Homo sapiens: one gene and its partners. The protein of the gene in region 5 purifies or fractionates together with the protein of the main gene of each other region. This does not show direct contact. Each region holds a gene or a part of one and is shown on either strand. Other genes may lie near its edges.

Region 1 (3,500 bases), on a different chromosome or scaffold from region 5:
TAGGCTGGGTACAGTGGCACATACCTGTAATCCCAGCACTTTGGGAGGCCAACGCAGGCGAATCACTTGAGGCCTGGGCAACATGGTGAAACCCTGCCTCTACAAAAAATACAAAAATTAGCTGGGCGTGGTGGTGTGACCCTGTAGTCTCAGCTACTTAGGAGGCTGAGGTGGGAGGATGGCTTGAGCCCAGAAAGCAGAGGTTGCAGTGAGCCGAAATCCCACCACTGCACTCCAGCCTGGGTGACAGAGCCAGACCCCGTCTTCAAAAATAAAATAAAATTTCTACATAGTCCCAGCTATTCAGGAGGCTGAGGTGAAAGGTTCACATGATCCCAGGAGTTTGAGGCCAGCCTAGGCAACATAGTAAGACCCTGTCTCTAAAATAAAATAAAATTCTACAAAATGCAGGGTTGGGGGCAAGCAGAAGGGAGGAAAAGAATATAGGAGAGAGGGAGGGACTACAAAGGAGCACAAGAAAACTTTTGGTGGTGACAGATATGTTCATATCTTGATTGCAGTGATTGTTTCACAGGTATAAATATATATGTCAAAACTCATCAAACTGTACCCTTAAAAATATGTGCAGTTTATTATATGCCAATTGCAACTCAATGAATCTGTGAACAATAACAACAAAAAGTACTCCTATACATATATAACCTGGAGTGGGGACAGCAATCTACTAATTTCCTAGGAAATTTTACTAAAGTGAAGTAATCAAGATGGTAGTGCCAGTGTGTACTGGTGATAACAAGGATCAGAAGGAATACCAGATAAAAATTATTCCTAAGGCACTGGAACCCAGAGAAGACAGAAATCTCTTGATAATCTAATGTAATATCAATCTCTTTTGATAAATAATATAGAGCCAAGTTCTGTAGTTCCCCAAGGAGAATACACCAGATTAAGACAAAGCAGTTAGAATATCATGAATTCCCATTAACTGATACTTGCAAAACTCTTCCATATACACACACATACATACGTATTTGTATATATTCACATGTATATAAACTTTTTACTATATGTGTATATATAATGTAAGTATGTGTGTGTGTGTGTATACTTAGTCTTATACAAAAATAGGATCATTCTATAAATTTTTTTTTTTTCTGAGACAGGGTCTTACTCTGTCACCCAGGCTGGAGTGCAGTGACACCATCTTAGCTTACTGCAGCCTTGATCTCCCAGGCTTAAGCAGTCCTCCCACAGCCTCCTGAGTAGCTGGGACTACACATGCATGCCACCACACACAGCTAATTTTTGTTTTTGAAAAACTGCTATTTATTTGACCAGAAAAACATTTTGGACTTAAGAAATGGCAATAACTGGCACATATACTAATTCAAAATATTTTCACAAAGCACCAAATAGAATAGTTCCCAATCTTTTCACTGAGAAACCTTTGAAAGAATGCCTAAAACTTAATCAGTTTACTTAGGTTTTTAATCAAGAAATCTAAAGCAGCCAATCAGAGTTTCTAATTACCATGAGATGACCAGGTTAACAACCTTGAGGTTGCAGGAGCTTTTAAAAGCTTTGTTTAGGCTGGGCTCAGTGGCTCATGCCCATAATCCTTGCACTTTGGGAAGCCGAGATGTGAGGATCACTTGAGGCCAGGAGTTTGAGACCAGCCTGGTCAATATAGTGAGACCCCATCTCTATAAAGATAAAATTAAATTAAATTTAAAAAAAAAAAAGCTTTGTTTAACCTACGCATTCTAACTGAGATTTGTTGACCTCAGGCTACTAATCACAGGTCCATGTGCCAGATACCTTGCACACACAAAATTGAGTAATAAGTATCATGTATAAAAGATAAAGACTATATGGTCCCTGTATATTTAAAAGGAATAATACCTAATTCTCATGGGTGAACAATTAGTGAGGGGCAAAGAGACAGACAGAAATTACTAACCCACAAGGGAGAACCAAGCAAGGTCAGTAGAAAAGAGAAAAGTCCTGTGCTCTGGGAATGCAGCAGAAAGGGCATTGGGAGGTTGCAGGGACCAGGCAGCAATCCAGGTCATACCAGGAACATGAGTGGATGTCAGTAAGTGTGGGAAGGAGCCTTCAAGGCTGAAAAAAACTAAACAAGCCAAGACACAGAGCCACAGGAGTACTGCCTGTTCAGAAGACAGTGAAGCATGTGTTCTGGGTAACACGATGTGAACTAAGAAGAGACATAAAACTCAGGAAAACCTCACCCAACGAGAGCCCAGAAACAACACTGGTCTGTATTTCTTAACAGCAATTCAACAGAGAATCTGAGGTGGCCTGCAAAACTAACAAGAGAGTAAATTATCTTGAAAGGGCAGGGGCACCACATGCTCTCTGTGGAGGTTCAGTAGCCAAGGATCACCCTGCAGCCCCTCCCCAACCCTACTGTGACACCCCAGACCCTTGGAATCAAATCCACTAGCAATAACCTTCCTTAATGGAAAATCTCTCCCCTCCCCAAATGTAAAACAAAAGATAAAAGCAAAGAAAACAAAACAAAAAGAGACCATCAGAGCAAGCTTTAGCCCTCATAACTCATCTATGCCCCACTGACAACAGGGTCTACTCCATTACTTAAACTGATTTGTAACACTGCTCCTACTACATCCTCCTCTTCAAAAAAAGTAAATAAACACCACACAAAATATAAACTTACCCCAAACAAAAGTCAGCATCAACCTAAGGATCCTACCGTAATGTTACTACGCTAACCCAGGATATTTTAATCTTCTTCCAAACCATTTACAAAAAAATTCCTCATCTGAGACCTCTGGAAGCGTTACAAATACTGTTACATTAGATTGTTCTTCTTGAGGTAGTTTTAAGTCTTGAAACAAAAAATTTACCTATTTTTCTACACCACTGCTAAGGGGTTAATTATTATAAAATGCCTACAACCAAAATCCCCATCCCCTTGATTCTCAAGCTATTAGAAATTTTTCCCTCATATCAAACAAATGGGAAACACACATAAAAAGATGAAAAGTCATGCAAAAATTTTTAAAAGGCCAGACACAGTGGCTTATACTGGTAATCCCAACACTTTGGGAGGCTGGGGTGGGTAGAATTGCCTGAGCTCAGTAGTTCGAGACCAGCCCGAGCAACATGGTGAAACACCGTCTCTCTAAAAATACAAAAATTAGCTGGGCATGGTGGCAGGCACCTGTGGTCCCAGCTATTTGGGAGGCTGAGGTGGAAGGATCGCTTAAGCCAGGAGGGTGGAAGTTGCAATGAGCTGTGAAGGTGCCACTGCTATGTAGCCTGGGCAACAGAGGAAGATTCTGTCTCAAAAATAAAAATAAAAATAAAAAACAAGCAAAAAAAAAAACCCACATAAAAAAGAAAGTGTATCATCATACGAACAGTCTAAACTTTGCCTAAGACAAAAAAAAGTTTACTTGGTTTACCCAAGGTACAGGCATGTTATAAATAAAGTACTCAAGAAATTAACATCTTATAAAAATAGTGAAAAAATTTTAGGTGGGAGCATAAAACTA
Region 2 (4,351 bases), on a different chromosome or scaffold from region 5:
CTTTTGCCCATATCCTCTCCTAGTACGCTATACTAATATTAAACTTCAAAATATGTCAAATCAGGATGGTTATGTTATTCTGAAAATGTAAACCACTCTAACAGAAATTATCTGGCAGAGGTAAGATTTAAATATCTTTATTTAATTAACAGAGCCTAACACAGTTCCTGACCCATAATGGGTGTTTTTAAATATGTTAAATAATTACCTTAATTTTTGGCCTGTAATTCATATCTCGAAAGAGTTTTGTTTCTTCATAGTCCTTGTAATTACCTAAAAATCCATATTTATACTTTCAAAGACAAAATGAAGATCTTCGGAGCAAACCATTCCTGTTCTAACATTAACAGGAACATTTCATACCAATATATACTTACCATAACAAAGTTTGGGGAAAATGAGCACATACAATATCTCAAGATGTTTACAAACCTCAAATTCTAAAATATGAGAATTTAAAATTATGAAAGAAAAATTCAATCAAGGAAATTCTGTTATCTTTTCAATGAACTTCTCAATTGTTTGCAGATCTGTATTCCTTCCACAGGGATTTTATGGTGTTTCTAGAAATATAAGTTGTTCTTGGAACATGCTAGTATATGTACAAGTAAACTTTACAAATACGTGAAAAGACCCATGTTAACTTTAAAAAGGTGTTATTGTCTGAATCTTTGTGTCACCCCAAAATTGTTATGTTAAAATCTTAACCCCCAAGGTGATGGTATTAGGAGGTGGGGCTTTTGGGAGGTGAGTAGGTCATAAGGGCAGAGCCCTCATGATGAGATTAGTGCCAAATTAAAGAGGCCCAAGGGAGCTCCTTGCCCCTTCTGCCACATGAGGGCACAGTGAAAAGGTGCCGTTTACGAACCAGGACACAGCCCTTACCAGACACCAAATCTGCCAGCACCTTGATCTTGGACTTCCCAGCCTCCAGAACTGGGAGAGATAAATTTCTGCTGTTTATAAGCCCCCCACTCTGTGGTATTCTGTTATAGCAGCCCAAACATAGTAAGACAAAGAGTAACATGAAAAAAGTGCTCTGCCATAGTTTTAGCATCACTGTTTTAATTTCATGAAATACAAGTACAAAACATTGTATAAGTATACTTTTTACTACATGGAGATGAACTAATACATTTATGTTTTTATCAGAATCTGTATCACCCAGCGCTGGTCAATGTACTAGTAGCTTTCCACAGGGATTTTTTATACTATTCCTATAAGGTTTTATCATGAATAAAAAAGCTCACAACTCTTTTCAGCCATTGCAGATTCACATTTATCTTAATATTCCTGTTCAAGATGCTCTGGAGAACTGTTAAGAACTACAAAATCACCTTAGGCAGAGTTTTGAATGAGTAATTTTATTTCACGTTGGCCAAGATCTCCCTTATGTTGGCATTGCAAAGACACTGCACTTATCTGAGGTTAGAAAAAATGTAGTCTTAATAGCCCTCTTAATGTGTAGCAAGGCAAATTACCATTTCCTAAAATGTCCAGAATATCATAGTAGTTAGTTATTCGTTAAGCAGTAAGTCATGAAACTCCACTTATAGAAGACAATAGCAACAGAGGACCACTAAGTCCTAAATATACCAAAGAAAAACAAGTTTACAAATATTCAAACTGTCTGTCTTCTCTACCTCTAAAATGGTTTAACCACATCAAGTGAGAGTAACATCAGCCAATTAGAAAGGGAAAAAGTAAACTGTGCTAGCGTCCGGCATTCAGCTTCCATAGCATGTCTCACAGTTTTCGGCCATTTCAGCTAAGAGTTTTCTTATGACAGGCAAAAATAATGATTAAAATACCATTAGCTTTGCTGAGAAATGTGGAAAAAAAAATCACAATGTCAAAAATATTTGAAACTAATTTTGTTTTTATAAATAAATAAAATGGTGTTTATCTTTTCTTAAAATTCTTGCTGTTAAAACATTCAAAGTTATGTCAACCTGTAAGGATAAAGGGGTATTTAAGATAACATGTTTGGAAAACTAAACCACATTTTTAATTGCCAGCATTATGCTTTGTTCTTGGTAGAGTCATCCTTGTTTCTTCTTTTTACATCCCAATTATAAACCCTGGCCATATCTGCAAGAATTGTCAAAGAAAATGCAAATGCAATTCTAAAGATAATGCATGCAATGACTAAGTATTCACTCCACTCACACAATGAATCAAAGACACAGAAATGAAACATATACAAATACTGGTAACAAATAGTATTGTAAGACATCCTGCTATAATGTCAATTGTTAGGAAAATACTATAATTAAACTCTATCAAAACTAAGGACTCAAATTAATTGTTAACCCATTGTTTACTATGGTATTAGTCAACTGTCAGCTAGTCAACTATGATATATTTAACAAATATGTACTAGACACTCTCGATAGTTTTAAAGACAGTCCCTCATCCAAGAAATCTGAAAGATCACTCAACCCATATCCTGCCATGTAATATTTATATTATTACAATTATCAATAATTTTATCTCTTACCCTCCCTTTGGCTTAACAAGTTTATTAAGCATCTACTGTATTTTTGACTAGGCACTGTACAAAGCCCTGACCTGAATAAGACAGGTGAAGTTCTTTTCCTCGTGGAGCTTAGACTCCAGTAGAATGTCAATGTAACAGAGACTGTCCACCCTAGCTCCCTCACTTGTCTGCACACCTTCCTTTCCTACCTTTTGCAGTACTAGCAATAACAAATGGCATTTAACTAAGCTTGTAGGACTCATCTTAGAGGATTTCCTCACTTTTGGCTCCTGTACCCATCTAAGTCACTGGATCCTGTTTTTTTCTCACACGTTTAATATCTTTTCCTTTCCACAAGCCACCCGTCCTAGGCCCTCGTCATCTCATAGCTGGATGAAGTTTCCACACTACCCGTCAGATGATGATGACCACTGCACTAGGCCCCAACAGGCCTGCCTTCCCTCAGCCAACCATAAACAACTGCCACATGCTGCACACTGGAAAAGAAGAGAAAGTGCAGCTCCTACATCTGAAGAGCTCACGGTTTGGCAAGGTAAAACTAAGCAGTATGTGTTAAGCAAGCACACAAGAAACACTCTGAGGATCAGAAAATGTTCAGGAAAGCTCTGATGCTTGGACTGAGATATTTAGGGTAAAAGGGTAAAAAAAGAGCACATCCTGTAAATATGGGAAAGTCATTCCAGTTAGGAGGAACAAAGTGTAGAAATGCAAAGGGTGTGGCACAATTGGGGAGTGTGTACAATAACTGACTGGGGTTATCTGGAACCTGGAATGCACTGGGGAAAGGCAAGAAGAGGTCAGTGGCATGAGGTGAGACAAGCTGGGGGCACTTCACAAGAGTGCCTATATGTATATCTTGTAAGTAACAAGGAACCGTTGAAATATTGTAACCAGAGGAATAAAAATGAGTGACCTAGTAAATTCATACTAGAGATAGTGGGAAGGACAGATGGAATGAGAGGAACCTAAAAAGGTTCTGAGTGCAGGTTTTGGAGCCCCAGAACGAGAACAGTAATGGGCAGAGAGATTTATGAGGGAAATTTGATGTGAATCTGGCGACTGATTTATTATTGGTAGTGAGGAAGAGAGAAGTGTGAAAGGTGACTCCCGTGATTTTGTCTTGAGTGACTGTGACAGGAAGTAGGAGGAAAAGACAGGCCAGAGAAGAAAGGCAAAGAGCTTGCCTTCCCCCTTGACCAGAATACCCCACTCCCACCTCTTCTCTCTGCTGATCTTTAAACCCTACGCCGCCTTTAAAAAAGCAGCCTAACTTTTATCTTCTCAACAAAGCCTTCTTTGAACTAAGTCCAGCCTACATCTATCTTTCCCAAAGTTTAAATTGCCTTGGTGTTGCATATGTTAACTTACTTATAGTTTGCTATGAATTATCATTCAGCTGTTTTACATGTACAGTTCTACCAGAGAAAGGCACTGCCACTCTTTTCTAAAATTGATTTTCATGCCCCATATGTCTTAGCACAGTTGCAGGAACATAGGAGACCCTTAAATGCTTGTGAAATTAAACTATTTAACCAGTTATAAAGTTGTCTTGGGAAAATATTTGGAAGAAAAATACTTACTCACCTATGTGAATTTGCTGTTTCCACATCACATTTCAAAATCACTAATCTATCTACAAACTTATTTAAGTACTAGTTCCGAATATCTTATTTATTATCTTATAAAATCTATAACCTTTATATTAGCCTAATAAGGAAATTCTTCCCACTAAAGCAATGTAAGAAAGAATGTGGGAGGTTTTTTGTATTCTAATTTTTTTTTAGTTCTAGGGTACATGTGCAGGATGTGCAGGTTTGTTACAAAGGTAAACGTGTGCCATGGTGGTTTGCT
Region 3 (4,410 bases), on a different chromosome or scaffold from region 5:
CAGGCATGCTTCTTCACTCCTGGCTAATTTTTATTTTTAGTAGAGACAGGCTTTCTCCATGTTGGTCAGGCTGGTCTCAAGCTCCCAACCTCAGGTGATCTGCCTGCCTCAGCCTCCCAAAGTGCTGGGATTAAAAGCGGGAGCCACCGCGCCTGGCCTTGGTCTTTTTTGTGTGTGTGTGACGGAGTCTTGCTTTGTTACCCAGGCTGGAATGCAGTGGCACGATCTTGGCTCACTGCAGCCTCCACCTCCCAGGTTCAAGCGATTCTCCTCTGGCCTGGTCATTGACTAACACTTTAACCATAGGTAATCTTACTGTCTCAGTTTCTTTGTTTATGAAAATAAGGGCACTGGGTGTTGGACCAGTTGATCTAAGGCAGCCTGTATTTTCACTGTGAAACTCTGCTGCTCTGTCGATTTGGTTTTTACTTATTGGGTACCCAAGTGAGCTATCCTTGAAAGGGTTCTGGGATTTTTTTTAAAAAAAATATTTTTTTAGAAGCTTCTGAAGAATGTGGTCACTAGTGTATGTTTTGGGGGGTTTTTGTTTTTGAGATGGTCTTGCTCTGTCGCCCTGGCTGGAGTACAGTGGTGTGATCTGGGATCACTGCAACCTTCGCCCCTGGGCCCAAGCAATCCTCCCATCTCAGCCTCCCAAGTAGCTGGGACAACTGGTGCACCATCATGCCCATCTATTTTTTTGTTTGTTTGTTTTTTGGGGTTTTTTTTTTTTTTGTATTTTTAGTAGAGACAGGGTCTTGCCATATTGCCCAGGCTGGTTTTGAACTTCTGAGCTCAAGCGATCCTCCTGTCTCAACTTCCCAAAGTGCTGGGATTACAGGTGTGAGCCACAGTGCCCAGCCTAGTGTATGTTATTTTGATTTTAACATTGCACTTGTATATTTTTAATGTCCATATTGTATACTGTAGACCCTACTCAAAGAATAAATCTGGAACTATTCATGAAAAACCCCTCCAGTAATCACCTAAATTCTTGAATGTTAGAAGCACTTGATAGGACTCTAGCTTTGTACTTGATCACATTTACTCATGTGTTCCTCTGAAAATCATTACATCACAGGTTAACCACCTTTTTAGTTTGCCCTAAAATTTTCTCCTATGCATAAGCCCAATGAACACGGAGAAATGGTAAATTTGTATTATGTTCAGTGAAAGGTTATTCTTTTTAATTCTAAAAAGGTGGGCAAGCTGATTATCATTTATAATTTAAAGGTTATATTTGATAAAGAAGGAGATCGTCCTTCTGTGGTGATCATTTCTTCAAATAGAGTAAATTTTAAAAATCACTTTAAGAATCCAATAGAGAACAACAAAGCCATATTGAGATGCAGGTTTTAGGAATTTGGTAGTAATCCCTCACAAGGTCAGACTTGATCTCCTGGACAATCAGGGCATGCTAGTCAGCTTTCATGACTCAGCAAAGCTACAAATTATGTATTTTGGCTTTTTGTGGAAATTGCCAACCCTACAGATAGCAAACGTCTCCTCGGTTGTCAAAAAGTAAGAGTAGTTTTTAGAATTCTGCCTTTGGGTCTTGTAGAATGAAATATTTACAAGATTTGCTATTTGTTAACATTTTAGCTACTTCCTTGTTCCTTCAGTCTTGCTGCTGTGCACACCACCATACCAGGAATATGAGGGAGAAAGCTAGCAAGACAGCTAAATAATTGGAAATTCTGCTTGGAGGTTAGACTGTGTTGTAAAATGGTACAGACAGTGCCTGGGCATTTTCATTGATAGAATCCTTGGAGTCGTTTGGGGTTCGTTGTCAAATGATGTCTGGCAGTGCAGCAGCATGATAGGAAGTGAAGAAGGAATGCTTATTTGCAGAGGAAGGATGACTTTTTTTTGGTTTGAGGCATGTCAAACTGATGGTAAAACCTTTTTTATCCCTAAGTTTAGTTTTTAATGTTGCTGCATAATTAAATTGGGTTTTTAAAAGTAGATCATTGGATTTGGAGGCAAAGGACTTAAGGTCTGGGCCCCGTTTACTAGCTTTGGCTTCCCTGGACTTTTTGGATATTAAAGAGTCAAATGAGATTATGAATAAGCTTCTTTCTTGGGGCCTGTGGGGAGGTGTTGGGAAGTAACTCATCTCTGAAAATTGTTGGCAGCAGTGGAATTGGCATGGAATTTTCAACAGAAGGCAGATGTAGCTAGTTGTCTAAAGTAGAAAATAGAAGATGGTAAAGGTTAGAATGGAAGTTTGTCTCGTTCCTTCTTGGGAGTGCTGTATCATCTATAGTCATCATCCTGCCATGTCACTTGTCAGTGTGCCTGTTTGTGTGTCTCGGTGGTCTGGTTACCATAGTGCACTTGTACAGCATCAAACCACAGAACCTGGTGATGTTAGTCACGCCTCTATAACCTGTACTTTTGTTATTCAGAAATATGACTTCTAAGTGTTTTCTGGTCTAGTGCTTGGTGGTCCCTCCTCATTAATCTTGTTTTTCAGAAACTCTCTGGCATCCTTGCTTGTTTATTCTGTTTAAACTTTTAACATCAAATTGTTTAGCTTCCCCGCTCTGCTGCAACAACCATCCTGATAATCATAATCATTTTTTATTGAAATCACTTTCAGTTGAACTCTCCTGTACAAGAACGTGATGTGTATCTCTTCCTGTTCCCTTTTCTTTTTTTTTTTTTTGAGACAGTCTTGCCCTGTCACCCAGACTGGAGTGTAGTGGCGCAATTGTATTTTTAGTAGAGATGGGGTTTCATCATGTTGCCCAGGCTGGTCTCAAACTCCTGACCTCAAGTGATCTGCCTACCTCGGCCTCCCAAAGTGCTAGGATTATAGGTGTGAGCCACCGTGCCCTGCCCCACTTTTTATTTTTGTTTTTATTTTTGAAATGGGGTCTCACTCTGTCACCCAGGCTGGAGTGCAGTGGCGCGATCTCTGTTCACTGCAACCTCCACCTCCCGGGTTCAAGTGATTCTCCTGCCTCAGCCTCCCAAGTAGCTGGGACTACAGGCTCATGCCACCACACCCAGCTAGTTTTTGTATTTTTAGTAGAGACAGAATTTCGCCATGATGACCAGGACCTCAGGTGATCCACCTGCCTCAGCCTCCCAAAGTGCTGGGATTATAGGCATGAGCCACTGCATGCATCCTAAAATAGTATGACTTTAACAAAGGATATTTGGTAAGATGGTTCTTAGAACACTGGCATTTTACAGTATACTTAGCATTTATTTTAAATTTATTATTATTATGTTTAAGAGACAGGATGTCCTTCTGTCTCCCAGGCTGGAGTGCAGTGGCTGGATCATTAATGAGGAGGGACTGCCCCTGCAGGCTCCAAATCCTGGGCTCAAGGGATCGTCCTGCCTCAACTAGCCTAGTTTATGTTTTAATTTTTTGTCTCCCTATGTTGCTGTTTTGAACTGGCCTCCCAAAGCTCTGACCCTATATTTAGCTTTTTTAAATTTTTTTATTTTTTTCTTATTGAGATGGAGTCTCGCTGTGTCGCCCAGGCTGGAGTGCAGTGGTGTGATCTTGGTTCACTGCAGCCTCCGCCTCCCAGGTTCAAGTGATTCTCCTGCCGCAGCCTCCTAAGTAGCTGGGACTACAGGCGCGTGCCACCACACCTGGCTAATTTTTGTATTTTTAGTAGAGATGGGGTTTCACCATATTGGCCAGGCTGGTCTTGAACTCCTGACCTTGTGATCCGCCTGCCTTGGCCTCCCAAAGTGCTGGGATTACAGGTGTGAGCCACTGCACCTGGCCTACTTAGCATTTTTAATGCGTTGAAAAATCCTGCATTAAAAAAACTATTGGTCCCATTGTGAGGAACACTTGAATATATGTGCATACATAACATACCTTCTTGGATCTCAAACTTTAGCACACACACAAGAATTGCCTGGAGGGCTTGTTAGGACTACAGATGCTGGATCTTGCCTGCCTTGTTTCTGGCAGGAATGGAAGTGGGGCCCAAGAATATGTGTTCCTAACAAGTTTCCTGAAGCTGCTGGTCCAGAACCACACTTAGAGAATCATTGGTTAAGGTAATGGTTTAACTTTGTTTAATGAGTAAATTTAGGAGAGTAACATAGGAAAAGAACCTGTCTACCAGATTTTCTATAAGTGAACCGGCCAGGATTGTTCTTTACAAGAAGAGTGACCATTGTAAAATCTAAGCAAAAATTGCAGGTTGGGCGTGTGAAGTTGGATGTATTTTTCCTACACATTGAAGGCTCAGAAACATTCTTTGTGCTTATTCTCAATACCTTTTGCATTACCTAGTCCATAGGCTTATAGTGTAATATTGAATGAGCCAGTTTTGCATTTTAGTGAGATGTGAGACTTGTTGGTATGTGTGTGAAGCACGGAATTGAGCCACTTGACTTTGCTGGCTGGGTGTTAACTGGTTGATGTTGGGTTTT
Region 4 (4,410 bases), on a different chromosome or scaffold from region 5:
GAAGTAGCAAATAACTCTGGAACACTTACTGTATGAGAAACAATGTTTCAATACTTATTGACCAACTGTTACTTTTTCTTTTTTTTTTTTTGAGATAGAGTTTTGCTCTGTCGCCCAGGGGGGCACGATGTCCACTCACTGCAACCTAAATAACTCTGGAACACTTACTGTATGAGAAACAATGTTTCAATACTTATTGACCAATTGTTACTTACTTACTTTCTTTCTTTTTTTGAGACAGAGTTTTGCTCTGTCACCCAGGCTGGAGTGCAATGGCAGGATCTCAGCTCATTGCAACCTCCACCTCCCGGGTTCAAGTGATCCTCTCCCCTCAGTCTCCTGAGTAGCTGGGATTACAGAAACCCACCATCATGCCCGGCTAATTTTTGTATTTTTGTAGAGATGGGGTTTCACCATGTTGGCCAGGCCAGTCTTGAACTCCTGCCCTCAGGTGATCCACCTGCCTCAGCTTCCCAAAGCGCTGGGATTACAGGTGTGAGCCACTGTACCTGGCCAACCAATTGTTACTTTCATATGAATCAAACCTAGGATAATAATACCTAAGATAATAAGGATTCAAACCTAATAAGGAATAAAACCTAAGATAATAAAAAAGTCCTTTCCCATTTCACGTCTGGAAATTTTAAAAATGACAACCAACCCCACCTACTAAATCATAATAACTCTTTACCTAGGAAGAATATACTTTTATAATGACTGCTTCTGCAGGATTATGATTGTAGGTCATGCATAATCAACTGATTTACAAAAAGTATGCCCAAATGAGGTTTAAGATTTACGGCCAGGCGCGGTGGCTCACGCCTGTAATCCTAGCACTTTGGGAGGCCGAGGCAGGCAGAGCATGAGGTCAGGAGATTGAGACCATCCTGGCTAACATGGTGAAACTCTGTCTCTACTAAAAATACAAAAAATTAGCAGGGTGTGGTGGCACTCGCCTGTAATCCCAGCTACTCGGGAGGCTGAGGCAGGAGAATCGGTTGAACCCGGGAGGCAGAGGTTGCAGTAAGCCGAGATTGCGCCACTACACTCCAGCCTGGGCAACAGAGTGAGACTCCATCTCAAAAAACAAACAAAAAAACCCAAAACAAACAAACAAAAAATTCACCAGGCATGGTGGCGAGCTACTCAGGAGGCTGAGGGAGGAGAATCACTTGAACCCAGGAGGCGGATGTTGCGGTGAGCAGAGATTGCACCACTGCACTCCAGCCTGGGTGACAGAGCGCGACTCCAACTCAAAAAAAAAAAAAAAAAGAGAAAGGAAAAAAGATTTCCACGGAATCCAGCATTAACTGGTAGAACAAAAATGAAGAGCTGGAAAATTTGAAAAATATACCACTTGTGAAATTTATATATACATACACACACACATATATAAAATATAAACTTAGGGATGTCAAAGGAACCCTTAATTATTAGTCAAAAAATGAAACTTCATTCATTCAACACTTGCTATGCACCTGTATTAGGTTCTGGCAATACAATGGTGAACAAGATAGAGCCAGTCTCAGCCTTCACAGATTCAAGAGCATAGCAGGAAACAGCAATAAGCAATTCTAGTACCACGTGGTAAGTGCTATAAAATGGAAAAGTCCAGGGTGTTATAAAATCACATAGTGGTGTGCTTAGGTAGAGAGAAGTTTCAGAAAAGATGAAATGACCTCTGTATTGTGATAAGGAGACTAAGAATCCATGAGGCTGGTATCAGGTTTTTTTTTTTTTTTTTTTAAATCAGGAAAATGGAGTACCTCAGAAGCAGCAGGAAAAGTTATGACATTTAGAGCACAATATGAAATACTGCCAAGGATTAAGATTGAAAAGTGTTAACTAAGCTTAGAGGGAATGTCATTGGTGTCCCTGATTGATTTTTTAAAAATGACTCAAAACAGATCATTTGGGGGAGAGAATGACTTCATTTCAAACAAGATGACCAATAACAACAGTTTATGCAGTCCTCGACCCTTTACTAAAATGTGTAGGTACATCTTCCCTTTCCTACTGTAGTAGGCTGGCTTAGATTATTGGTTCCTAACCATTTCATGTGGGCTAAACTCATTTCATGGGCTAAACATATTTAATGCTAAATATGAACACAAGAATGATGCATTTTTTATCATCAGATTAAATAACAATTGGACAAAAAAGTTACAATGAAGTCAATAATGCTTTTAAATAAGTGCATTTTTCTAGAAAATCACAGGATGTTTGAAAAAGAAGTATCTGGGACATTGGTACAGCCAGGATACCATGCTTGGAATATATGTGTGGTGGTCCCTCGTGATGACTCAAGCCCACAGATTGAGAAGCACTATGGATAATATGATCTTCTAAAAAGCCTTGCAATTTAAAATTTTTTTTTAATTCTTCAAGTTTAAAAAAATTACTGAAGCAAAATGGCACATCATGGTAGATTTTATAATAGTTCAAAATGGAATATGATCTAATACTTTAAGCACCTCAGTCTTAGACACTATCAACTGTGACTAAATGCTTTTCTTCAGTGATACCCCAATATTCCCATTAATTAAAACAACTATGAATATCCTTTGCACTTCCTTTACAAGTTTTTGCTATCCCAGAAAAAAGGTAATTGTGCACACTAATTGTAAAGGAAAATCTCCAACCCAATAGACAGAAGTCCAGTAATTCTATCAGATCATTTTACATTAAGGTAAACATAAGCCAAAAGACAAAAATACAGATTTTCCATTCTATTTTCTGATATCAAACCCTAAACAGACAATATTTGTCTATTTATTCATTCCTTTAAAAACTGTAGCTATTGCTCAGGTGGAGAAAGGACAGTTAGGGCATCAGGATTCTGCCAGGTTTCCATCAGTGAAAGCAAATGCTTCTGGTTGCGAAATCCACCGAGGATGCCAATTTAGAGGTGCTATTCAAATGTACAGCAGTTTATCCAACCACAGATAAGAAATTACAATTACTGATCAATTAATTACATTTAGATAGTCTAATAATAACTCTAAGGACCAGACTATTAAAAGAAGACAAAAGTAGTCTTTCAATATTTACTGGTCACCAACAGTTAAGATATAAATTTCCAGTTTAAAAAAATCACAAAGACCTTCCTATTGTTGCTTTACCAAAGAACAATCTAGTAATTCAAAGATTACAGGTGTAGGCCTACATATTCCACAAGATGGACAATGGTAAGTGCAAATGTTTTGCCTTATTTTATTTGGGGCCAAAAATAAATCATTTTAAAGCAGTTTAAGTTACACAAAGAGTCCAATCTTAAATTCTAATTTTTAACAGCAGTCAGGTGAATAAAAAGTTATTTGTGGTCAGGGGCAGTGGCTCATGCCTGTAATCCCAGCACTTTGGGAGGCCAAGGCGGGTGAATCACGAGGTCAGGAGTTTGAGACCAGCCTGGCGAACATGGTGAAACCCTGTCTCTACTAAAAATACAAAAATTAGCCAGGCGTGGTGGTGCGTGCCTGTAATCCCAGCTACTTGGGAGGCTGAGGCAGGACAATCTCTTGAGCCCAGGAGGCAGAGGTTGCAGTGAGCCGAGACCTCGCCATTGCACTCCAGCCTGGGTGACAGAGTGAGACTCCGTATCAAAAAAAAAAAGTTATTTGTAAAACTAAAAAACTCTGAAATATCATGAAATTAAAAAATCATCAGTGTTGATCCAGACAACGTGGAAAAGAGGAATTAGGACATCTAAAATGTGAAAAGGAGATGGCTAGGTTTTATCAAATACCAATGGTACAGATCCCCTGGGATGAGGTGGGGTGGCTGAAACCACAATGAAATGTTAAAATCTAGTTTCAGCCGGTGAGGTGGCTCGTGCCTGTAATTCCTAGCACTTTGGGAGGCCGAGGTGGGTGGATCACCTGAGGTCAGGGGTTTGAGACCAGCCTGGCCAACCAGGCAAAACCTTGTCTCTACTAAAAATACAAAAATTAGCCAGGCATGGTGGCGCATGCCTGTAATCCCAGCTACTCAGGAGGCTGAGGCAGGAGAACTGCTTGAACTCAGGAGGCAGAGGTTGCAGTGAGCCAAGATCGTGCCACTGCACTCCAGCCTGGGTGACAGGGTTAGACGCTGTCTCAAAAAAAAAAAAAAAAAAAAATTTAGTTTCATGTATAGAAACTATCTTTATTTTTAATGTTTACAGAACTGAGAACTTTTTGGATCTTTTATTTTACCTACTATTCTTCCATGATTAAAACTAAATTAACAAACGAAATAGAAAATGACTGGAGAATTTCAGACATCCAAAATTGATGTAAGACAAGTGATAATTAATTCAAATAATCCTCTTGATAACTACTTTTAATAGCAGCAGTGAGCTATTATAAATGATCATAATGAGAATCATCAATTTTTAGTACTGAAAGAAACAGAAGAGATCTAATATTTTAA
Region 5 (4,299 bases):
GAGATCGCGCCACTGCACTCCAGCGTGGGTGACAGAGCGACTCCGTCTCAAAAAGAAAACAAACAAACAAACAAAACACAAAAGTTTTTTTTTTTTGGCCGGGCGTGGTGGCTCATGCCTGTAATCCCAGCACTTTGGGAGGCGGAGGCGGGCAGATCACGAGGTCAAGAGATCTAGACCATCCTGGCTAACACGGTGAAACCCCGTCTCTACTAAAAATACAAAAAATTAGCCGGGCGAGGTGGCGGGTGCCTGTAGTCCCAGCTACTCGGGAGGCTGAGGCAGGAGAATGGCATGAACCCTGGGCGGCGGAGCCTGCAGTGAGCCGAGATCGCGCCACTGCACTCCAGCCTGGGCGACAGTGAGACTCCCTCTCAAAAAAAAAGAAAAAAAAAAAAGATTTTTTTTTTTTTTTGGCCAGGGGCGGTGGTTCATGCCTGTAATCCCAGCACTTTGGGAGGCCGAAGCCTGAGGTCAGGAGTTCAAGATCAGCCTGGCCAACACAGCGAAACCCTGTCTCTACTAAAAATACAAAAATTAGCTGGGCGTGGTGGTGGGCGCCTGTAATCCCAGCTACTCCGGAGGCTGAGGCAGAAGAATTGCTTGAACCCAGGAGGCGGAGGTTGCAGTGAGCCAGGATCGTGCCATTGCACTCCAGCCTGGGCGACAAGAGTGAAACCGTGTCTCAACAACAACAACAACAACAACAAAAAAGATTTCTTTTTCGTGGCCAGGTGCAGTGGCTCACGCCTGTAATCCCAGCACTTTGGAATGCTGAAGTGGGTGGATCACCTGAGGTCGGGAGTTCGAGACCAGCCTGACCAACACGGCGAAACCCCATCTCTACTAAAAATACAAAATTAGCTGGGCGTGGTGGCGCATGCCTGTAATCCCAGCTACTCGGGAGGCTGAGGCAGGAGAATCGCTTGAACCCAGGGCAGAGGTTGCAGTGAGCTGAGATCTCGCCATTGCACTCCAGCCTGGGCAACAAGAGCAAAACTCCGTCTCAAAAAAAAAAGATTTTTTTCTCTTTTTGTTTTTTGGTGTTCCTGCTTTACTGATACTCTAAACTGATTAGTCCTAGTAGCTGGGATCACAGGCGCCCGCCACCACACCCAGCTGATTTTTTGTATTTTTAGTAGAGACGGGTTTCACTATGTTAGCCAGGCTGGTCTCAAAATCCTGACCTCAGGCAATCCACCCGCCTTGGCCTCCCAAAGTGCTGGGATTAGAGGCGTGAGCTGCCGCGCCCAGCCTTGCCTATTGAGAATCTAGTACTGCCTCTACCTCTGGCTCCGGGAGTACCTATGCGGTGCTACCTCTTGTCCTGCTCAAAAGGCAGACGCCCCCATCTCCCTCCCACCCTGTGGCATCCCGCCCCAGCTCTACCCGAAGCAGTGCTTCCGCAGACTCAAGGCAAACCTGCCCGCCTGATACTCTGCCCCATTCATGAGGGATGGTTCCGTCTCTGTGTCCTCGATCAGCACGGCCAGCTCACTGTCCCGCTTCCCCAGCAAGCTCCGGTCATTGATGTTTGCAGAACCTGGGGTGGATGCGGGGCACACTGTGTGCTTGGGCCCAGGGCACTCTCCCCAGTACCCCATCCCCTCTACCAAAGCACTGGCCTGCAACATTCCTTCTTGGACCCTCCACCCCTACACGAGCCTCAGCTGCAGTCTCTGTCATCCTGCCTCTCATCTCTTCGCCTGTCCCCACACCCTCTCCCTGCCAGAGGACTAGATCCGGCACTGACCAATGATGACTGTCCGGTCATCTGCGATGAGCACCTTGCTGTGGATGTAGATGAGCTCCGAGACGGGGTGCCCGCCCAGCTCTCCGTGTGTACGAAGCCCGCAGATGGAAATATAGTCCCGCCATGCTGTCCCCACTGCGTGACAGGAGGGGAAGTGAGGTGAGAGGTGGCTCTGTGTGCACAGGGCCCTGTCCCACCTCCTCTCACTCCAGAAACTCTTCCTACATAGAGTCTGGTCTCTCTCCTTCTCCCTGCAGTGAAAGGCCAGCTATGGTCTGCGTAGCGTCAGAGGCTCACAGGAGTGACAGCCTCCTTCCCCCACCCCCAGGCCTGCAGCGCCCCAATCTCCCTCTCCCAGGGGCCCAGGGCTTGAGCCCCCAGCCCCCAGCACTCACTGGCTGCTTTAAGGCGATGCAGGATTGAATACTCCCCACGACACAGGGTCCTGAGAGAAAAGAAAGAGGGAGAGAAGTGGAGGCTGGCAGAGGGGAGGGGAGGTCAGGAGAGGTGGCCCTTCTTTAAGGCCCAGCAGGAAGGGATCAGGACAGAATCAGGAGGGGGACACGGGTGGGATGGGGCCACTGAGAGCTGGAGTCCGCCTGGGGGGTCACCTGTAAGTAAAGTGCAGAATGGCCTGGATGGAGTTGCCACCGCCCGTGGAGATGTCACCCTCGAAGCCAGGGAGTAAGGGCAAAAGCACGTAGACTCGGTAACACCACCCCTGTCTGGGGAGGGGGTGGAGTCAGAGGTGCGACTGGTCCCTCAAACCCCACCCCCTTCAACCGGGCTCAAACCACACCCACAGTCCCCACCTTCCTGACAGTCCACCTTACTTGTGGGCCTTCAGGATTCTGTCCACAATCTCATCGCCCACCTTGTTCAGAACCGTCCGCCCATCTGAGCAGCTAATGAAGAACTGATTCTGGGGCAAGAATCAGAGACAGACATCAGCAGCCTGGCCCCTGGCCCTGTCCTCGGCCTCCAGCCTTGGTCCCAGGCTCCAGGCGTCTGCTTCTGCTCCACCAGCCCTCAATGACTGACTCCACTCATTCCCCAGGTCTCTCTCCTGGGACACCCCTTCCATGCTCTCCCCCACCTCCTCCCAGTCAGACCTCAATGTAGAGGAAGTGCTGGCTCTCCCTGATGGTGTGCAGGTAGGCATTGAGGATGGAGTTCTCCAGAGTCCCTGCTGACCAGCGGTCCACTGATCGCAAGACCTAGGGAATGGTGAATGCGATGTGCTTCATTTCTTTTCTTTTTTAAGACAGAGTCTCGCTCTGTTGCCTAGGCTGGAGTGCAGTGGCATGATCTCCGCTCACTGCAAGCTCCTCCTCCTGGGTTCACGCCATTCTCCTGCCTCAGCCTCCTAAGTAGCTGGGACTACAGGTACGCACCACCACTCCCGGCTAATTTTTTGTATTTTTAGTAGAGACAGGGTTTCATGGTGTTAGCCAGGATGGTCTTGCTCTCCGGACCTCGTGATCCGCCTGCCTCGGCCTCCCAAAGTGCTGGGATTACAGGCGTAAGCCACTGCGCCTGGCCTTTTATTTTATTTTTGAGATGGAGTCTCACTCTGTTGCCCAGGCTGGAGTGCAGTGGCGTGATCTCAGCTCACTACAACATCCTCCTCCTGGGTTCAAGCGATTCTCCTGCCTTAGCCTCCCTAGTAGCTGGGACTACAGGTACGCACCACCACGCCCGGCTAATTTTTTGTATTTTTAGTAGAGATGGGGTTTCACCATGTTAGCCAGGATGGTCTCGATCTCCGGACCTTGTGATCCGCCTGCCTTGGCCTTCCAAAGTGCTGGGATTATAGGCGTGAGCCACCGTGCCTGGCCGTGATGTGCTTCTTAACCCCAGGAAAGGAGAGTGTGGGCAGCTCTCACACCAGGGAGAGTGGGTTGGGGTGTTAGGCTGAAGGAGACAAAGGGGAGGGCTGGCTGAAGTGGGGGGCCTCACCTGTACGGTGGTGCACTGCCCTCCTGGAAGTGTGAAGGGGAGCTGATTGGCCGTGCTGGTAGACTTGGGAAGCAGGTAGGGGTATGTGGGAGTCTTGTACTTGGCCTTGGTGGTCTGACGTGGAGGGATGGCAGAGTCAGCAGGAGGTGCCAATCTGCCCTGGCTCCCTCCCTACCTCCAGCCCCTATCGGAGGGAATGAACACCTTGGTGAAGTTCCAGCGCTGGATGAAGTGCCGGGCAAGGTCCCGGGCCGGTAGGCCATGGACGACCACCCCAACGTCCCGCCATGGCATCCGAGGGGTCGTCTCCCTGTCAATGAAATCTGGGGGGTCCCAGGAGAGTCAGGGGAGATGTCAGGGCTGGACTCCTTGGGACACTTGGGGCAGGGAGAAAGAGCCTGCCAGAGGGAGGGCTGTACCACCGTTGACCCCTCTCATCCCACTCTCAGTACCAGCCCCAGCTTCTGACCCTGCTCTCAGCTCTCTGGGGCTTTGGCGGGTGGGAGGCTTCACCTTCGAAAGGCCGGTCCAGCTGCACCCAGTCCTTGGTGATAAGATTGCTGTAGTCCTTGCCCAGCCAGAAGAAT
Region 6 (4,410 bases), on a different chromosome or scaffold from region 5:
GGCTAATTTTTTTTCTTTTTTTTTTTTTTTGAGAAGGAGTCTCACTCTGTTGCCCAGGCTGGAGTGCAGTGGTGCAATCTTGGCTCACTGCAACCTCTGCTTCCCGGCTTCAAGCAATTCTCCTGCCTCAGCCTCCCGAGTAGCTGGGATTACAGGCGCCCACAACCATGCCTGGCTAATTTTTGTATTTTTAGTAGAGATGAGGTTTCACCATGTTGGCCAGGCTGGTCTCAAATTTCTGACCTCAGGTGATCCACCCTTCCTCAGCCTCCCAAAGTGTTGGGATTACAGGCGTGAGTCACTGCGCCCAGCCGTGGTTTTTTTTTTTAGAAACAAGTGTTTTGCCATGCTGCCCAGGCTGGTCTCAAATCCATAGGTTCAAGTGATCTCCCCACCTCAGCCTCCCAAAGTGTTGGGACCACAGGCATGAGCCACCATGCTTGGCCAGAAAGAAGTTGTTAACAAAATACTTTCACCTACTATGTCCAGAGTATTTATTCGGATGATATTAGGAAGTCGATGTTCTAAATAAAAAGGACCTGATATGTAGAATTATTTCATTACTTAAACATTACAAAAATTAGCACAAGCTATACTACCAGCAACAAAAGGTTATTTAGGTAAAAAGCCATTTCTTTTTAATTCTTTGAAGTTGGTACATCCCCTTCACTAAGCCTGGAAACATATGTGTATCTGTTTTAATCTTCCAAACTTTTACTAAAATAAGGTAATTACCAAAAAAGGATAACTGTTATTAGTAGGTTAGAAAACACTGCTATTATCAGCTAATGTTTCTTAAATAATGGCACCAAGACTGTGGAGGTTAAAAGGAAAAAAAAAAAAAAGACATTTCATAAAATGATAATATATCCTCATATTAACACACAGCATCACGACTAAGATGATAAATTACACCCCAAATGCAAAACCTTGTAAGGAGCTATGTCAAATTCATTCAAGCTTACCTTGCAGGTAAGATTAAAACTATTAAGTTAGTCTCTGTCTGGTTGTTCAAAATTCCTCCCTTCCTACAAAATACTTAAGTTACAACCAAAACTGTAGTTAATATAAAAACTTGAGCCAAAAAGTGATGGGAGTCAATTCTGTTGTTTTTTTTTTTTTTTTGGACACAGGATCTCACTCTGTCACCCAGGCTGGATTGCAGTGGCAGCGATGATGGCTCACAGCAGCCTTGACCTCCTGGGCTTAGGTGATCCTCCCATCTCAGCCTCTCAAACAGCTGAGACCATAGGCGCGCCACCATGGCTGGCTAATTTTTTTTTTAAATTTCTTGTAGAAACAAAGACTCACTATGTTGCCCAGGCTGGTTTCAAATTCCCAGGCTCAAGTGGTCGTCCTGCCTTGGCCTACCAAAGTACTGGGATCACAGGCATAAGCCACCACGCCCTGACTCAAACTGTACTTTATACATAAAACTAAGCCAAAAGGTGATGGAGTTGATTCTGAACAAAGTCAACCTGGAAAACTCCATCTGCCACCCACACCCATTCTAAAGCTCAATGACAGACATCTGAATGTTCTCCAGTAAAACAGTGGCAAAAGCTGCCTGGCTGTTTTTAAAACTCTTACCACTTTCGTCTTTAGGATAAAGCTATTCCCTGAACTTGTAACTCTTAATAATTTACTGTACTAGAAAAAGCAATGTGTGATACTAGTCATACTGATGAATAATGCCAGCACAAGACTGTAAAATAACCCAAACTCAAAAGTAAATTCTATTCAGCTTCTAGAAAATACATCCCAGAGTCACCGTTCTATAATAAATGGGGGATTTCAGCAAAACTGTTACCCCATTTTACCTAGAAAACTTAGCTCCATCATTACATTTAAACAAGCTAAATAACTGAGACTTAGAAAAAAGTATTAGGTAGCATGATTTCAATATATACAGTGCTAATATGGCCTGATGACAATACTGTAATCTCACACCATAACACTGCATTTTCAGTAACGTTCAATTATGCTGGTCAGGCATGGTGTCTCGTTCCTATAATCCTGTCATTTTGAGAGGCTGAGGCGGGTGGATTGCTTGAGCCCAGGAGTTCAAGACCAGCCTGGGCAACATGGCAAAACCTCATCTTTACAAAAAATACAGAAATTAGCTGGACATGGTAGCAGGCACCTGTAGTCATAGCTAGTCAGGAAGGGGAGATGGGAGGATCAGTCTGGGTGACAGAGTAAGACCTTGTCTCAAAAAAAAATTTTTTTTTTAATTAAGTAAATAAAAATTTATACTTCTTTTTGTTGGTTCTTCTGTCTTCGGTGAAGTTAGGGCTGCTCACACACAGTAGCAATGATACTTTTCAAAATAAACCAGGCCTAAGAGGCATGGTGGCTCATGCCTGTAATACTTTGGGAGGCGGAGGCGAGAGGATCTGCTTGAGCCTGTGAGACTGAGACTGAGGCTGCAGTGAGCCATGGCTGCGCCACTGCACTCCAGCATGGGCAGCAGAGCAAGACTCTGTCTATATAAATAAAATAAAATAAAATAAATAAAATAAAATAAAACAGTCCTAAGAAAAGGAAAGAAATAGGGAAATACTGTTGGACTCAAAAGTTAACATCTGCTTACTGTCAAAATTTTCTTTAGGAAAATCACAAAAACAAAAACATCCAAAAAAAACTTCCTAAAAAAATTTAGGAAGCTTCTAAAATGTGTCTAAGCAAAATAACCCCAATCTATCTTAAACACAGCAATGGACTGAGCTGTTCTTAATCTGTTGAAATACTAAAAAACAGAATGTTTCTCTTTTTTATGAGATAGTGTCTCACTCTGTTGCCCAGGCTAGAGTGCAGTGGTGCCATCTTGACTCACTGCAACCTCCGCCTCCCAAGTTCAAGCAATTCTCCTGCCTCAGCCTCCCAAGTAACTGGGGTTACGGGGGGTGTGCCACTGCACCCTGCTAATTTTTTTTTAATTTTTATTATTATTTTTTTTTGAGATGGAGTCTCGCTCTCTTACCCAGGCTGGAGTGCAGTGGTGCGATCTCAGCTCACTGCAAGCTCCGCCCCCTGGGTTTATGTCATTCTCCTGCCTCAGCCTCCTGAGTAGCTGGGAATACAGGCGCCTACCACTACGCCCGGCTAATTTTTTGTATATTTAGTAGAGACGGGGTTTCACCGTGTTAGCCAGGATGGTCTCCATCTCCTGACCTCGTGATCCACCTGCCTCAGCCTCCCAAAGTGCTGGGATTACAGGCGTGAGCCACCGCGCCTGGCCAATTTTTATATTTTTAGTAGAGATGGGGTTTCACCATGACCAGGCTGGTCTCAAACTCCTGACCTCAGGTGATCCGCCCCCCCCCCCCCCCCTCCGGAGCCTCCCAAAGTGCTGGGATTAACAGGCGTGAGCCACCACGCCGGGCCAGAATACAGACTTTTTCATTATTGTATTAAGAGATGGGGTTTGGATATGGTAGCTCACACCTGTAATCCCAGCACTTCGGGAGGCCAAGGCAGGAGGACTGCTTGAGCCCAGGAGTTGGAGATAGGCCTGGACAACACAGCAAGACCCTATCTCTGCTAAAAATAAAAAATTAGCCAGGTGTAGTCCCAGCTACTCAGGAGGCTGAGGTGAGAGGACTGCTTGAGCCCAGGAAGTCAAGGGTGCAGTGAACTACAATCATGTCACACTGCACACTGCACTCCAACCTGGGTGACAGAGTGAGACAATGTCTCCAAAAAAAAAAAAAAAAAAAAAAAAGGAAGATCAAAGAAGGAGGTTAAGAAGACAAATAATGAACACATCTACTACTGGACCATGAGACTAATTAAAAACTGGAAAGGTTCCTACCCCTTCTGAAGCCCACACTTCCCGGGCTTACCCATCAATAACAAGTATTGAAGAGTTTGGCCATCCCAAATACCTGCATCCTCTGCTGATTTTTGAAGGGCTTCTGCTAATTCTTGGTCTGCAATCTCCTCTGGCCGTACATCCTCTCTTCCAGCCCCATATGCCAACCGGGCACACTCTGGTAGCTCTCCCTCAGGAAGAAAGGTGGTCTGGGAGCCTGTGGTGCCGATCACGAGTACATTTTTCTTCAGGTCGATGGAACACTTGGAAGAAAGAAACCAAAGAATAATAGCAGATAAAACACCATGCAGAAAAATTATGCTCCTTAATTTAAAACTCCAATCACAAATGGCCAGGCACGGTGACTCATGCCTGTAATCCCAGCACTTTGGGAGGCTGAGGAGGGCAGATCACCTGAGGTCAGGAGTTCCAGACCAGCCTGGCCAACACGGTGAAACCCCACCTCTACTAAAAATACAAAAATTAACCAGGCGTGGTGGCACATGCCCATAATCGCAGCTACTTGGGAGGCTGAGGCAGGAGAATCACTTGAACCTGCGAGGCAGAGGTTGCAGTGAGCCAAGATTGTGCCACGC
Region 7 (4,410 bases), on a different chromosome or scaffold from region 5:
TCCTTCCATGAAAGTATTCACTCAGCTACTTTAATGGGGAATGTTAACAGTAATCTGACTCAAGTTTTTCAAAAGATTTTCTATTCTCCCTGTGGCCTTTACATCAGGGAAATATATGGGCAGGAAAAGGGAGGCAGCAACCTCTATGCTAGTTTCTGGAGAGAAACTATGGTATGAAAAGACTGCAAGTCCATGTGCTTTTTAAAAAGAAAAGGTCACAGATACATACCTGTTTCATCCTTGCTGCAGCTCTATTTGAAAATAGAATCGACCTCTCCTTTTGGAAGCAGGATGGGCACATTTCGAGGGCTCGACTATAAGAACTTTCAGCTTCTATATAATCTGAGGATAAGAGAAAGGATGAATGGTCATTTTGATTTTATTCCTGATACTACTATATTCCACAGGATCTCAGAAGCACTGTTTTCCATTCATAGGATGAAGGTTTTGAGTTAAAAGATGGTAACAGTCTATTAAGTCTGGCGCAGTAAAAATCATTTCTTCTTTTCTTCTCTCTTTAAAGGAACAGTGCTTGCTTGTGCCAATCTCACAGGCTGTGCTTGGTGAACTGACAGCTGAACATGCTGTCAGTGACAAGCCCTCAATACTCAGGAGTCCTGGCATTCCCTCAATGTTCAGTTTTCATTTGGCTGGGCAATTCAGAAAGGAGTTTTCAAAGGAGGTTACAGAACTGGACAGAGGAAAGAGACTAAACTCTGGGATCCATGGCCTGAGATAAAGAAAAAAATTATACATATTTGTTTTCATTAAATCTGTTGTGCTTTCATACAGTCAACCTGGCTAAAACAGCATCCGTGAAATGTTTGAAGAGAGACATTTGATAGAGCTAAAAGGAACAATGTAAAAATCAATATTTAAATCAAGACCTTAAAAGAGAAAATGGTGAAAAAGAGAATTATGGTCAGGATACTAATAGAAAATTGCCTATGTACTCCTTTCTCAGGTTTGAAATATTTAATATTAACATACAAAAAATATGCTTCCAAAATTAGAAGTGTTTATTCTATTAGAAAACAGTATTAATGATTACTAAACCAAGATATAGGAAAAAAAAAAAAACCCTAAAATCTGAAATCAGGTAATAGGGTAACTTTTGGAAAACAATAAGAAAAAAATTAAAAACCTGAAAATAACTAGCGGAAAATGTTAACACTCCTAGATTTCTGAAGCATATACACTTTAAGATGTGACAGAAGACTTTTGCTCTAAGATCAAATAGTTACCCCAAATTATCAGAATGAACCCCACCAACTTATTTCTAAGCAAATGTAGAAAATGCAGAAGGACATGAAGAATCTCCCTACTTAAGGCATCCAAAGAAAATGGCACATGAAAGAGCAACCTTTCTGAAGCAGTTTGGAGAATTTAAAAAAAGAAAGAAAGAAAGAAAGAGCAACCAAAGGACAGGCAGCCCTAGGCCATACCAGAGCAGTCAGGCTGCTTTCACAGCCCCACAGCAAGTGAGGAGCGGCGACTCTGCTTTCACAGCAATGCAGCACATAACCTTTAATATTCCAGGTTAGTGTTTTCCAAAGCAAGAGCTCAAGAGTTTTACCCCTGATTCTAGACTAACAGATAGTGGATTACAGAAAGACTATGCATGTGCCAAGAGACAAATGGTAACTGGTCACCATCAGATGAATAATTTGGCCTGGTTAAAAACTCAAAATGCCAAGGTACTGGGAAGCAACACTGTATTGTGAAGTCTGGTTTTGGGGTTTCTTCAGATGTTCTTTGGGGTTTCTTCACAGACTCTACAACAGGATGAGGAGTCAAGATGACCAGATTATCAGTGCTGAAAGTCGTCTTACCTCCTTTCTTAAACTGTTCATTTCCCTCCTCCTTTAGTCTAGTGCTCTCTTCTCTTCTTTTCTGAAAGACATCAGAGAATTACATAATTTCTCACAATATTATTATAAGTGAACAAAAAGGTGAGCTTTCCTTATGCACAAGTCTATTTAATAGGCAACAGTCTGACTTTTGAGAACTGCATCAGTTTCACCAAAACCTTGTACAGTGATAGAGGAAAAAAAACACATGACCATCAGGCTAATTATCAATTGCATTCTTGATGTTTAAAACAAAAAATGTAGGTCTTCTTGGCATGTCCTTTGCTTTCTATGTTTCTATCTTTTGCAATGGAATGATAATTACAGTATCACTTAATTTCTACTTACTCAGAAATGAAACTAAATAACATACCCACTGGTGTGCATACCAGTGTAAATTCAAATTGTAGCTTCTAGTACTTACTAGTTATGTGGCCTCGGACAAGTTTCAGAATCTTTCTGAGCCTTAGTTTCTTCATTTCAAAAATGAAGCTTTAATAGTATTATGGACTACTGTTTAATGGATTAATGTCATAATATACATAAAGCTGCCCATACAGTGACTAGCAAATAAGGGCTCAATAAATAAGCTATTATTTTCTGTGAAATAAGTACTTTAATCCTTATAAGAACCCTTCATGGTTTGTGTCATGAAGGAGACACAGTATGCTAGGAGAGCACATTTGTGGGTACAAGCCAAGTCTGTAGGGTTAGGGCAGTATACTGTTAGCAGGTTAACATAGGAAAATGTGAAGAAACCTAAATAAATAAGTCTGTCTTTTCTTAGCTTATTCAAACAACTCAGAAACTCACATAGATGGCCAAAAACTCATCAAACACAAAGGCTGAGAGAATGTTATCCTGCAAAGCAAAGTAGACGCATGCTGAGTGTGTGCACTTTTTTGTGGAACATCTTAACAATATAACTGGCACAAGCCAAACCAGAAGAGTCTGTATGCCTGCCACCTTTTGACAGTGCTTTAAAACAAAAACAACAAAAAAACCCCAAAAACAGAAAATCTACCAAAGTCCCTTAAAAAAAAAAAAAAAAAAAAAGAGATAGGGTCTCACTATGTTGTCCAGGCTAGAGTGCAGTGTCTATTCACAGATGTGATCAACACACACTATAACCTTGAACTCTTGGACTCAAGTGATCCTTCTGCCTCAGCCTCCTGAGTAGATGGGACTATAGGTGCACACCACTGTGCTGGGCTCTTTCCTCCTTCTTGAAGCTTCTGATTAAGTAATTTCAAAGGGAGGAAATACAGTTAGCATTCTGATTAAGTAATTTCAAAGGGAGGAAATACAGTTAGCAGGGTATTTCATGCACAAGAGAAGCCTGGAACCTAAACAATTGGTCCTTTTAACATGAGGAACTGATATGATCTGTGTTCCTACCCAAATATCCCCACGGGTCAAGGGACGGACCCTGGATCATGGGGACGGTTCCCCCATGTTGTTCTCATGATAGTGAGTTCACTTTCATGAGAACTGATGGTTTTCAAGTGCCACACTTTAAAACCATCAGCTTTCTCTTCACTTTCCGCCATGATTGTTAAGTTTCCTGAGGCCTCTATAGCCATGTGGAACTGTGAGTCAATTCAACCTCTTTTGTTTATAAATCACCCACTCTCAGGCAATTCTTAATAGCAGTGTGAAAATGGATTAATACAGGAACCAAAATAAAAACATTCTTTCTCTGGAAAAGATTTGTCAATATGCTATTGATGAGACCGGGTATTTCCCAAATGTCTTATTATTACACTATGGATTAAACAGAGCACTTGATGAATCTCAGTGAGGAAACTAAAAGGTAAGTATAGAGTGAATCTAATTTTTATGGTACATACTATGTGCCAGACACACAGCAGGTACAAATAACAATTCATTTTAAGATATAACGTATCTGAGGGAAGGGCTATTCTAAAGGAATTCAGAAAAAAATAAAATATAAGAATATGGCCATATTTACCTAGTACTACCCATAAGAAAGATGCTTAGATTGTAATGATCTCTACTGTATTGATTAGGGTTACTGGATGCAAGCAAAAGACTATCTTAAGCAAAAAACTTTAGGGGGCAGGTTTACTGGCAAGGTATCAGTGCTCACAGAATCAGTGAGAGGCTTAACGAATAGGCTTAGAAAGCAGGTAGAACTTGGCTGGGCGTGGTGGCTCACGCCTGTAATCCCAGCACTTTGGGAGGCTGAGGCAGGCAGATCATGAGGTCAAGAGATTGAGACCATCCTGGCCGACATAGTGAAACCCTGTCTCTACTAAAAATACCCCCCCAAAAAAAAAAATTAGCTGGGTGTGGTGGCAGGCGCCTGTAGTCCCAGCTACTCAGGAGTCTGAGGCAGGAGAATCACTCGAACCTGGGAGGCGGAGGCTGGAGTGAGTCAAGGCCGCGCCACTGCACTCTAGCCTGGCGACAGAGTGAGACTCCGTCTCAAAAAAAAAAAAAAAAAAAAAAAAAAAAAAGAAAGCAGGTAGAACTCAAGGAGGCTCTGTTAAGAAGCAGAATGCATGTCTTTTAGTGAAAGACTTGCCAGGACAGGGCT

The links.
Region 1: the proteins of PLD2 (region 5) and KIFBP purify together in Homo sapiens (affinity purification with mass spectrometry, with the first as the bait; one large-scale study listed by BioGRID). This does not show direct contact.
Region 2: the proteins of PLD2 (region 5) and VBP1 purify together in Homo sapiens (affinity purification with mass spectrometry, with the first as the bait; one large-scale study listed by BioGRID). This does not show direct contact.
Region 3: the proteins of PLD2 (region 5) and DNAJA2 purify together in Homo sapiens (affinity purification with mass spectrometry; 3 studies listed by BioGRID and IntAct, with this or other methods). This does not show direct contact.
Region 4: the proteins of PLD2 (region 5) and TOMM70 purify together in Homo sapiens (affinity purification with mass spectrometry, with the first as the bait; one large-scale study listed by BioGRID). This does not show direct contact.
Region 6: the proteins of PLD2 (region 5) and DDI2 purify together in Homo sapiens (affinity purification with mass spectrometry, with the first as the bait; one large-scale study listed by BioGRID). This does not show direct contact.
Region 7: the proteins of PLD2 (region 5) and TTC1 purify together in Homo sapiens (affinity purification with mass spectrometry, with the first as the bait; one large-scale study listed by BioGRID). This does not show direct contact.

The regions. Positions count from the first base shown.
Region 1 is NC_000010.11:68,991,803-68,995,302, reverse strand, and holds part of KIFBP (KIF-binding protein), read right to left. Parts: exon of another isoform or gene 3,435-3,500; intron 1-3,434. UniProt on the Homo sapiens protein: Activator of KIF1B plus-end-directed microtubule motor activity. Required for organization of axonal microtubules, and axonal outgrowth and maintenance during peripheral and central nervous system development.
Region 2 is NC_000023.11:155,236,512-155,240,862, reverse strand, and holds the end of VBP1 (prefoldin subunit 3), read right to left. Parts: intron 2,092-4,351; coding exon 2,021-2,091; 3' UTR 1,022-2,020; downstream 1-1,021. UniProt on the Homo sapiens protein: Binds specifically to cytosolic chaperonin (c-CPN) and transfers target proteins to it. Binds to nascent polypeptide chain and promotes folding in an environment in which there are many competing pathways for nonnative proteins.
Region 3 is NC_000016.10:46,959,840-46,964,249, reverse strand, and holds part of DNAJA2 (dnaJ homolog subfamily A member 2), read left to right. Parts: intron 1-4,410. UniProt on the Homo sapiens protein: Co-chaperone of Hsc70. Stimulates ATP hydrolysis and the folding of unfolded proteins mediated by HSPA1A/B (in vitro).
Region 4 is NC_000003.12:100,394,288-100,398,697, forward strand, and holds part of TOMM70 (mitochondrial import receptor subunit TOM70), read right to left. Parts: intron 1-4,410. UniProt on the Homo sapiens protein: Acts as a receptor of the preprotein translocase complex of the outer mitochondrial membrane (TOM complex). Recognizes and mediates the translocation of mitochondrial preproteins from the cytosol into the mitochondria in a chaperone dependent manner.
Region 5 is NC_000017.11:4,816,673-4,820,971, reverse strand, and holds part of PLD2 (phospholipase D2), read right to left. Parts: coding exon 4,226-4,299; intron 4,036-4,225; coding exon 3,917-4,035; intron 3,897-3,916; coding exon of another isoform or gene 3,827-3,896; coding exon 3,713-3,826; intron 2,971-3,712; coding exon 2,866-2,970; intron 2,676-2,865; coding exon 2,587-2,675; intron 2,479-2,586; coding exon 2,365-2,478; intron 2,199-2,364; coding exon 2,149-2,198; intron 1,889-2,148; coding exon 1,754-1,888; intron 1,544-1,753; coding exon 1,390-1,543; intron 1-1,389.
Region 6 is NC_000001.11:15,651,373-15,655,782, reverse strand, and holds part of DDI2 (protein DDI1 homolog 2), read right to left. Parts: intron 4,078-4,410; coding exon 3,888-4,077; intron 1-3,887. UniProt on the Homo sapiens protein: Aspartic protease that mediates the cleavage of NFE2L1/NRF1 at 'Leu-104', thereby promoting release of NFE2L1/NRF1 from the endoplasmic reticulum membrane.
Region 7 is NC_000005.10:160,032,623-160,037,032, reverse strand, and holds part of TTC1 (tetratricopeptide repeat protein 1), read right to left. Parts: intron 1,894-4,410; coding exon 1,833-1,893; intron 343-1,832; coding exon 230-342; intron 1-229.